Linked DNA regions of Homo sapiens. The protein of the gene in region 2 purifies or fractionates together with the protein of the main gene of each other region. This does not show direct contact. Each region holds a gene or a part of one and is shown on either strand. Other genes may lie near its edges.

The links.
Region 1: the proteins of CXorf66 (region 2) and CRYBG1 purify together in Homo sapiens (affinity purification with mass spectrometry; one large-scale study listed by BioGRID and IntAct). This does not show direct contact.
Region 3: the proteins of CXorf66 (region 2) and PRUNE1 purify together in Homo sapiens (affinity purification with mass spectrometry; one large-scale study listed by BioGRID and IntAct). This does not show direct contact.

What each region holds. Positions count from the first base shown.
Region 1 is NC_000006.12:106,569,460-106,572,517, forward strand, and holds the end of CRYBG1 (beta/gamma crystallin domain-containing protein 1), read left to right. Parts: 3' UTR 1-2,536; downstream 2,537-3,058. Other genes in the region: RTN4IP1 (NAD(P)H oxidoreductase RTN4IP1, mitochondrial isoform 1 precursor), read right to left, coding at 2,537-2,644. UniProt on the Homo sapiens protein: May function as suppressor of malignant melanoma. It may exert its effects through interactions with the cytoskeleton.
Region 2 is NC_000023.11:139,955,512-139,959,168, reverse strand, and holds the end of CXorf66 (uncharacterized protein CXorf66 precursor), read left to right. Parts: intron 1-951; coding exon 952-1,105; intron 1,106-2,429; coding exon 2,430-3,273; 3' UTR 3,274-3,441; downstream 3,442-3,657.
Region 3 is NC_000001.11:151,018,426-151,022,082, reverse strand, and holds part of PRUNE1 (exopolyphosphatase PRUNE1), read right to left. Parts: intron 3,617-3,657; coding exon 3,414-3,616; intron 1-3,413. UniProt on the Homo sapiens protein: Phosphodiesterase (PDE) that has higher activity toward cAMP than cGMP, as substrate. Plays a role in cell proliferation, migration and differentiation, and acts as a negative regulator of NME1. Plays a role in the regulation of neurogenesis.

The DNA.
Region 1 (3,058 bases), on a different chromosome or scaffold from region 2:
CAATTCACTCGCCTCGGCCTCCCAAAATGCTGGGATTACAGGCCTGAGCCACTGCGCCCAGCCAGGATTTGAATTATTTTAACTCATCCATGGGCTGCCCTAGAATGTCACAAATGAGGGTTGTTTAATGCCTTTCTTATAGCTGCTACTGGAACACTATTATGACCTAATTTATGAGCCATCCTTACTCATCTACAAGTGCTGAAGCAATGTTACATACTTTTTTGCTAAACTCAGATTTTTTAGCCTAATTTCTTGTCCTCCTATCCACCTGCATCCACACATGGCCTGCATGGGGCTGCCTTCCCTGCAGTGTTCTGCAGCCATGCTTCAGGGTATAGCTGTTGGTGGACAGCCTCAGGTCTTGGGGGCACTATAGCCACTAAACGAGGTGTGAAAGGCTCAAGAGGATGACCAGCAATTAATTATCCCCAGAAAGTGAAGGAAAAGAGACCTTTAGGGATGTTGCTGGTCAAGTCTTGATTTGACCGGAGTCAAATCAATCTTCAAGCAATCTTGGAATCCTCAACTGCAGTAAGCATTTCAAAATGCAAACAAACTGCTTAACAACTGACAAGACACCAGCCCATACGCTGCTCTTCCAACAGTGGGTTCTAGCTTTGAACAAAAGTGCTAAACATTTCCTTGAATATATTCTTCCTCTTTTTGTCCTCATCACTCAATACTGGTGCTCTTGTCACAGGTAGAACAGCTTGTTTCTTTTCCATCTATTCAAGTGTGTTTCTAATTCTAAAATGCTGATCTTCTCTGGAGTCTATGGTAGGCAATTATGGTCACTGGAATAGTTTGTCTTGTTTTAAAATATTATTGGTGCATGTACAACAGCATCCAACATATCTGTCTTGTTCCTAGATATATAGCTCTGATTTTAGGCCTTTTGTGCATACCATTACAATATGGTGGGGTAAGACATTCTACAGTAGCCTGTGCTGAACTGATCTCTTAAATAAACTTGCTTCTGGTTAACTATGTTGATGAAATCTGAGAGTCCATTCAGTAGCCCTCATCTCACCCTTCAAAGAGAGTCAGCTAGCAGATTAGAAACAAATGTCTGATTAGGATGAAGCAGGTTTGAGGGGTGCTGGTATAATAGCAAGAAAGATTTGCTGACCACTCTCTTTCCAAACTCCATAGTTTCTGAGTGGAAACGAGGATGAGTGAGGTCCTGGCTCAAGTATTTTACTCCCACTACCACCTGGGAGCCCTCCAGGAAAAGAGCTGAGGCTGCTCCAGATGGAAGTCAAGAGCAGCTGGTATTTACACCTGGAAAATCAGATTTTTTTTTCTTTTGCAATAACTCGGTAGTAAGACCAGACCAACAATTTTAGAGAAAAGCCTACATCTAACATACATGCTACCAAACGAGTGTCTAACAGGAATAAACCAAGCAGAAATCTCAAAACAGGTCTACATCAAAAGTTACAAGCAAGCATATCAGGTGCAATACTGAGGATGAGTATATTAGGAAGTAAAAACACTTACCGTAAATGAATATTCGAAGTGCACACTGCAATGGGTTGATTGGAGAGATATCTAAATGTAAACATTTGACATCAAAGTGGCAAGCTTTGGGCTCCATTGGAAGGCTGCAATTTCCATGGAAAAGCCCTCAGAGAAGCATGTTTCAATTGCCGAAACAGGCCTAATCCTTATGCAAGATGTAAGGGTTTTAAAAAGTTAGAAACTCTGCTCTCACCTTTCAATATTAAGAGCATAAACAAATGAATCACCAGGCAGATTTTTATATATGACACTAAGAGATTTAGAACTTTAAGAGCTGTGGTGACCACATTATGGTGGAGGAACAAAAAAGGAAACCTTGGCAGTTAGAAAGCTGCTCAGTGATGAATTCAAGAAGGAACCAGCTTTAAATTATCTCTTCATGCCAACATCCATCTATACACTGAAAGTTTTAGTATTGTACATTAAGACGATCAGGCCCAGCAGGGTGGTTCACGCCTGTAATCCCAGAACTTTGGGAGACTGACATGGTGGATCACTTAAGCCCAGGAGTTTGAGACCAGCCTGGGCAACATGGCAAAACTGTCTCTACTAAAAATACAAAAAAACTAGCTGGGTGTGGTGATGCATACCTGTAGTCCTACCTACTTGAGAGGCTGAAGCAGGAGAATCGCTTAAGGTCAAGGCTGCAGTGAGCTGTGATTGTGCCACTGCACTCCAGCCTGGGTGACACAGCGAGACCCTGTCTCTAAAACAAAAAAGACAATAAAGTAGTTTAAGCTAGTAAAACAGAAGGTGCCACAACAACCTGCAAAGCCAGTGTGAAGGAACAGCTTGAAAAAACTTCGAATTTCTACTGACTACAGACAAATCCAAGTGCTGATATTTTTATATCAATTACTGGCCAAAATGGTGTGTTTATTTTTTAAAGCTTGTATCATGGAATGTATAATCTAATCTGGAAAAATGTTTGAAAGGGATGGCTAGAAAAAAATTTGGGCTCACAGGCACTCACCAAATAAGAACGTCAACAATCACTAAACTGCATTTTTATTTAAACAACATTAATTACAGTCTTTCCTCGTGCGTGTCCTCTTTCCACCTTCAGGAAGGCTTCTGGAACTTTAGAAAAAGGAAAGGTTTGTTCAATAACTGGCCGGATCTGTAAAACATAAGAGGTTGACCGGTGGATAAAAAAGCCTACATCTTTCAAGGCAGATGACATTGCTAATTAGTTTCTTGACGGTGTCCCTCAAGCCACAGTCTCTCTCAAGTGTCTCTCCAGTGGACCCAGGTCAGGCTCTCACAAGGGCCATGATGCTGCCTCCACTCCTGCCTCACTGCTGCTTCTCTCTTTATGGCCCCTCCCACCCCACTGCCCAGTCTTACTTCTCCTCCATGCTGGTCTTTCACTCTCCTACTTAGAACCGTTCAACAGCTCCCACTCCGGCATTCGAAGACCAATAGCATCCTGAGCTCAGCCCTCATCCAGATTCCATGCTTTGCAAAAACGCTCTACCTGCCATTTTCTCCACGTGGTATGTTTATGCCTCTGCTGGTACGAGTCAGTAAGCCC
Region 2 (3,657 bases):
AGCCAGTAGATCTTAGCTTGCTGGGCTCCATGGGAGTCGGATCTGCTGAGCGAGACCACGTGGCTCCCTGGGTTCAGCCCCCTTTCCAGGAGAGTGAATGGTTCTGTCTCACTGGGCTTCCAGGTGCCACTGGGGGGAAAAAAAACTGCTACAGCTAGCTCTGTGTCTGCCCAAATAGCCACCCAGTTTTGTGCTTGAAACCCAGGGCCCTGGTGTTGTAGGCACACGAGAGAATCTCCTGGTCTGTGGATTGCCAAAACCATGGGAAAAGCGTAGTATCTGGGCTGGATAGTACAGTCCCTCACTGCTTCCCTTGGCTGGGAGAAGGAGGCCCCTGGCTCCTTGCACTTCCCAGGTGAGGCAATGCCCCACTCTGCTTCTGCTCGCCCTCCTTGGGCTGCACCCATTGCAGTCCCAATGAGATGAACTGGGTACTCCTAAGTAGTTCCAGTGAGATGAACTGGGTACCTCAGTTGGAAATGCAGATATCACCCACCTTCTGCATTGGTCTCGCTGGGAGCTGCAGACCAGAGCTGTTCCTATTTGGCCATCTTGCCAGATCTCCAGCATATAGTAGGTTTTTAACAGAGGTTTGTTTTTATCACATCCTTTTTCAATTACACACACACATTCACACACACGTTAACACTCAAGTACACTTATACATGCAAGACACACACACACAGATTCAAAAACCTGGGTAATGTGATAAGCAAGCCAAGATTCAGGGATAACCCAGGTAATGGTATGGATTAGTCAGCGATGCCTCCCAGATTTAGCTTCTGGACTGGCTGGATCCATGAGGTAAAAACATAACAGTGGTACAATTAATCAGGTTTAAAAAATAATTCATGAAGAAATGTTATTTTGATCTACACTATCAAACCACTATCAATGTGGAAAAAAACTTGGTTACTTAACACCTTCTCTGATTATACAATCTCTTTGCAGGAGATAAACCTGTTGAATCAATGCAGACAAAATTGAACTACCTTAGAAGAAATCTACTCATTTTAGTTGGTATTATCATCATGGTTTTTGTCTTTATCTGTTTTTGTTATCTCCATTATAATTGTCTGAGCGATGATGCGTCCAAAGCAGGAATGTAAGTTTTACTCCTTTAAATTAAGAGTGCGAGGTGTGTGTGTGTGTACATATAGCGGAGGTTTCATTGTTGTTCAGGTTACTCAATATTAACTTTAGACTTCTGAAGAGCTACCAACCTTTTGTAGGTGAATATTTTCCCTTAAATTATATCAGCTCTTAAATATTCTCTAGTACATTATTAACTTCAGCCAAAGTGTCTCTTGTTCAAGGTTCAGCTGAACTCCAGGACATTAATTGCATTATAAATTCAGTGCAGGAAAAGAGGGCATGAATATCCAAATAAGAGTGCGAAAATGAAGAGAAAGAGAGAGGGAATTGGGTCTCTGTTTTTCAAAGACAATAAAACATTTTGGATAATCTACCATTTTAAGACTTAATCACATGAAAAATTATTCACTGTTGTTGCTCTCATGATCTCAGTGCCTGCCTTTTATATACTAGTTCCCTAAAAATATCCCATTCCAAAGACTGGTGACTAAAACGTGGTACCAGTACTGTATTCCTTTAGTTTCAGAGGAATGTTATGAATTTAAATATGCACCGATAACTTGATGTTGTAAATATGATACAAAAACAATGACTTTTCCTACAGTTTTTTTCTTGTGATACATTATCAATCTGTGACTTTTTTATAAAAAGTTTAATTCTGAAATAAGTGAGGTTCATTCTCTCTCTCTCTTTCTCTTTGTGTGTGTGTGTGTGTGTGTTTCTCTCTTTTTACAGCAGATTTGAAATAACTTTGTGTAATTCTATATGTGGATTATATGGTTATCTAATGTGGTTAAATAGTAAAATGCTCTTAAGAAAAAGCATTAAACAAGAGTCCATATTTATAACCTTAGTTGTGGCTTTCACCACTCCAATTCTGTTTTTGTGTTTTTGTTTGTTTGTTTTTGAGACAGAGTCTCACTTTGTCACCCAGGCTGGAGTGCAATGGCATGATCTCGGCTCACTGCAACCTCTGCCTCCCAGGTTCAGACGATTCTCCTGCCTCAGCCTCCCAAGTAGCTGGGGACTACAGGTGTGCGCCACCACACCAGGCTAATTTTTGTATTTTTAGTAGAGATGGAGTTTCACCATGTTGGCCAGCCTGGTCTCGAACTCCTGGCCTCAAGTGATCTGCCCACCTCGTCCTCCCAAAGTGTGGGATTACAGGTGTGAACCACCACACACAGCCGTCACACTCCGATTCTTACTGTGTTCAGTTTTCATATTAAAGCCCCAAAAGACCACAGGTCTAAGCAGTACCATACGTTCTCCGATAATAGTAATAGGTCTCTTTTGTTTTAAATCATTATACTCCAAATTTTCTATACTTTCAGGGTCAAGAAAAAAGGCATAGCAGCCAAGTCATCTAAAACATCATTCAGTGAAGCCAAGACAGCCTCTCAATGCAGTCCAGAAACACAACCCATGCTATCTACTGCAGACAAGTCATCTGATTCATCGAGTCCAGAAAGGGCATCCGCACAATCCAGCACAGAAAAATTAATCAGACCCTCAAGTCTACAAAAGCCATCCATACCAAACAGTGCAGGAAAGTTAACTAGGCCATCATATCCAAAAAGGTCATCCAAGTCATCATGCTCAAAAAAATTAAGCAAGTCATCTCACCTGGAAAAGGCACATAAGAAAGGCAGCCTAGAAAAATTATGTAAGCTAGACTATGCGTGTAAGCTAGCCAGTTCAGATAAGCCAGTCAGGCCACCTCAGCTATTCAAGCCACTTTATTCATCTCATCCACAAAATGAAATCTCACCATCCAAGCCATTCGGTCCACAGGAATTGGCTAAGCCTCCCAAACATTTTAATCCAAAAAGGTCAGTGAGTCTAGGCAGGGCAGCCTTATTATCCAACTCTGAATTAGCTGAAACTTGTCAACCCTACAAGAAAAAACATCTTGTTGCCAAAACTTATAGGCCTTTGGTCAATGATATTTCTGAGGCAAAGGAGAAAAACACTCAAAACCTACATGTTTCAAGCAAAGTCAAGTCCTCTTCCAGGTCCTTTCGTAAGTTAGATTCCAGGAACAATGCATACGGTGATCATGTGAATGACAGTGATACGATGAAATATTATAGTGAGGTTGACAGTGATAAAGTTATAATCATTACGTGTGACAGAGGGTACAATCAAGTCACCTCTGAAGTAACCCTAAATGATTAGGAGCTCAACAAAAATAAAATCCAAGTGTGAAAGAGCAAACTTATACCAACTATTTTATGCTCATCATCCCTTAAGAAACCAGTAGAGGGAAAAATCACTATCAAGATCACCCATATCTGTCTTGGAGGCGATTTATTTTAAAAATATCAATAAAATGCATGACATAAATTACTATTGTAATTATTATTTCATTTTAGGGGGCACAAGGATCTTTTGATGTCTCTTACTTAGACCTGGTCACTTGGATAAGAACCATAAACATACACTCACACAAACCTAGAAAGAAATTGCAAGATGGGGCCGGGTACGGTGGCTCACACCTGTAATCCTAGCACTTTGGGAGGCTGAGGTGAGCAGATCACCTGAGGTCAGAAGTTCGAGACC
Region 3 (3,657 bases), on a different chromosome or scaffold from region 2:
GGAGGCTGAGGCGGGAGGATTCCTTGAACCCAGGAGCTCAAGGTTATGATGATGCCGCTGTACTCTAGCCTAGGAGACAGAGCGAGAGAGACACCATCTCTTAAAAAAAAAAAAGGTGGTGGCACGGTGGCTCATACCTGTAATCCCAGCACTTTGGGAGTCCGAGGTGGGCGGATCACCTGAGGTCAGGAGTTGAAGACCAGCCTGACCAACATGGTGAAGCCCCATCTCTACTAAAAACACACACACACACACACACACAAAATTATCCCGGGAGGCGGAGGTTGCAGTGAGCCTAGATTGCACTATTGCACTCCAACCTAGGCAACAAGAGAAAACTCTGTCTCAAAAAAAAAAAAGAAAAAAAAAGGAAAGTTTATTACTGAATGAATCCATAGATGGATAATGCTCTCTCAGGCTGCCTTCTGTCAGTATCCTGCTATAACCACAATGTGCTCAAGAAAAAAATATTAGCAGGAGCCAAACAGACTTAGGAAAGTCACATAATCGTGTTGCTTTTTTGGTAGTTTTTTCCAGTAGTAAATTAGGGATGGAATTATTATAAATGTGTACATTTGTTAAACAGACATTATTGAGATATTTATAGATTAAAAAAAATTTTTTTTTGAGACGGAGTTTCGCTCTTGTTGCACAGGCTGGAGTGCGATGGCATGATCTCGGCTCACCGCAACCTCTGGCTCCCATGTTCAAGCAATTCTCCTGCCTCAGCCTCCTGAGTAGCTGGGATTACAGGCATGTGCCACCACGCCTGGCTAATTTTGTATTTTTAGTAGAGATGGGGTTTCTCCATGTTGGTCAGGCTGGTCTCAAACTCCTGACCTCAGGTGATTCTGCCCGCCTCAGCCTCCCAAAGTGCTGGGATTACAGGCGTGAGCCACCACGCCCGGCCTGGCTAATTTTTTTTTTTTTTTTTTTGAGACAGAGCATCACTCTGTCGCTCAGACTGGAGCGCAGTGGCGCGATCTTGGCTCACTGCAACCTCCACCTCCTAGGTTCAAGCGATTCTCCTGCCTCAGCCTCCCAAGTAGCTGGGACTTACAGGCGCGAGCCACCACGCCCAGCTATTTTTTTTTTTTTTTAAGATGGAGTCTTGCTCTGTCGCCCAGGCTGGAGTGCAAGTGGCATGATCTCAGCTCACTGAAAGCTCCGCCTCCCGGGTTCATGCCATTCTCCTACCTCAGACTCCCGAGTAGCTGGGACTATCGGCGTCCGCCACCATGCCCGGCTAATTTTTTGTATTTTTTAGTAGAGACGGGTTTTCACCATGTTAGCCAGGATGGTCTCCATCTCCTGACCTCATGATCCGCCCCCCTCAGCCTCCCAAAGTGCTGGGATTACAGGCATGAGCCACCGCGCCTGGCCTGAGATATTTATATATTCTAACATAATACATTATTCTAAAATCGTAAGAGTTTATGTAGAAAAACTTTTGCTAACTTTTTGTGTGCTTTTAAATTTTTTTGTAGAGATGGGATCTCACCATCTTGCCCAAGCTGGTCTTGAACTCCTGGGCTCAAGCAACCCTCCTGTTTCACCCTCCCAAAGTGCTGGGTTTACAGGTGTGAGCCACCACACCTGGCCCTTTTGATAACTTAAAAAAATTTTTTTGGAGACAAGTTCTTGCCCTGTCACTCAGGCTGGAGTACAGTGATGTGATCATGGCTTACTGAAGCCTCAATTCCTAGGCTCAAGTGATCCTACCACCTCAGCAGCCTCCTAAGTAGCTGGGACTACAGGCATGCACTACCACACCTGGCAAATTTTTTTATTTTTAGTAGAGACAAGGTCACACTATGTTTATAGATTTTTGTATTTATTATTTTTTTTTAGAGAACAGGGTCTCGCTATAGTGGTCAGACAGGTCTCCCTAAGTGCTGGGATTACAGGCGTGAGCCACCACACCAGGCCACTTTTTAAAAATTAAAAATAGGCCAGGTGTGGTGGCTCACGCCTGTAATCCCACCACTTTGGGAGGCCAAAGTGGGCAGATCATCTGAGGTCAGGAGTTCCAGGCCAGCCTGGCCAACAGCGCAAAACCCTGTCTCCAGTAAAAAATATAAAAATTAGCTGGGCATGGTGGCGCGCACCTGTAATCCCAGCTACTCAGGAGACTGAGGCAGGGAGAATCGCTTGAACCCAGGAGGCAGAGGTTGTTGCAGTGAGCCGAGATCACACCACTGCACTGAAGCCTGGGTGACAGAGCAAGACTCCATCTCAAAAAAAAATAATTAATTAAAATTAAAATTAAAAATAGAGTTGCAGGCCAGGTGTGGTGGCTCACACCTATAAACCAGCACTTAGGGAGGCAGAGGCAGGAAGATAGCATGAGCCTAGGAATTTGAGATCCGCCTGGGCAATATAGCAAGACCCTCTTCTCTAAAAAAAATTTAATAAGTAAGTACAAAAATAAATAATAAGTAAAAAAATAAAAAGAGAATTGCAAACATTTTTCAAAGGTTTCTATTACAATAAATCTGTCTCAGAATCTTTTTTTTTTTTTTTTTTGAGACAGGGTCTCCCTCTGTCTCCCAGGCTTGGAGTGGAGTGGTGTGATCTTGGCTCACTGCAGATTCGACCTCCTGGGCTCAAGTGATCCTCCCACCTCAACCTCCCGAGTAGCTGGGACCATAGGCATGCACCACCGTGCCTAATTTTTAAAAATTTTTTGTAAAGACATGGTTTTGCCATGTTGCTCAGGCGGGTCTTGAACTCCTGGAGCTTAATGGATCTGGCTGCCTTGGCCTCCCAAAGTGCTGAGATTACAGGCGTGAGCCATCACACCCGGCACACAAAATCTTAAATAATGATACCAAAGGCAGATTTAAATGATTTTTGAGTTACCCTTTAGTTTGAACTCAACACGTTCTATTTCTTTTTATTATAGGGTATGTCTATATGCCACAGACATACATATAACTGCAGAACTGACAATATTTTGTGTTGTTTTTCTATATCTAATATGACCTATCAATTATGATTAGCCTATGAGATCCCTGAAAGCAAAAACTCTTTCTTTTTTGAGACGGAGTCTGGCTCTGTCGCTCAGGCTGGAGTGCAGTGGCACGATCTCGGCTCACTGCAACCACCACCTTCCAGGTTCAAGTGATTCTCCCGCCTCAGCCTCCCAAGTAGCTGGGATTACAGGCACTTGCCACCACGCCCAGCTAATTTTTATATTTTTAGTAGAGACGGGGTTTTGCCATGTTGTCCAGGCTGGTCTCAAAATCCTGATCTCAGGTGATCCGCCCGCCTTGGCCTCCCAAAGTGCTGGGATTACAGGCATGAGCCACCATGCCCAGCCAGCAAAAACTCTTTCTTCCTCTCTTTATATCTCACTCATCAGAGCCCAGCATGGTACATGATAGGTAGCAATTTAATTTCCTTGTGCTTACTTGGATAAGATATGATGGTCGACAAGGATGAGGGTGAGTTGGCCAGCCTGGTATAATGCATGGAGGTCAATCTCATCCCGAAAAATCAAGATACTCTCTGGAATATGAACCTTCTGAAGAAAGAAGACAATGTCACCTCGCAGAGGTAGTTCAGAACGTTTTATATTTAAAACTGGCACAAAGACTTCCTCAGCCTCAGTTGTCTAGATAGGAAAGTGAAAAGAAGGTATCACAAGGTTTTATA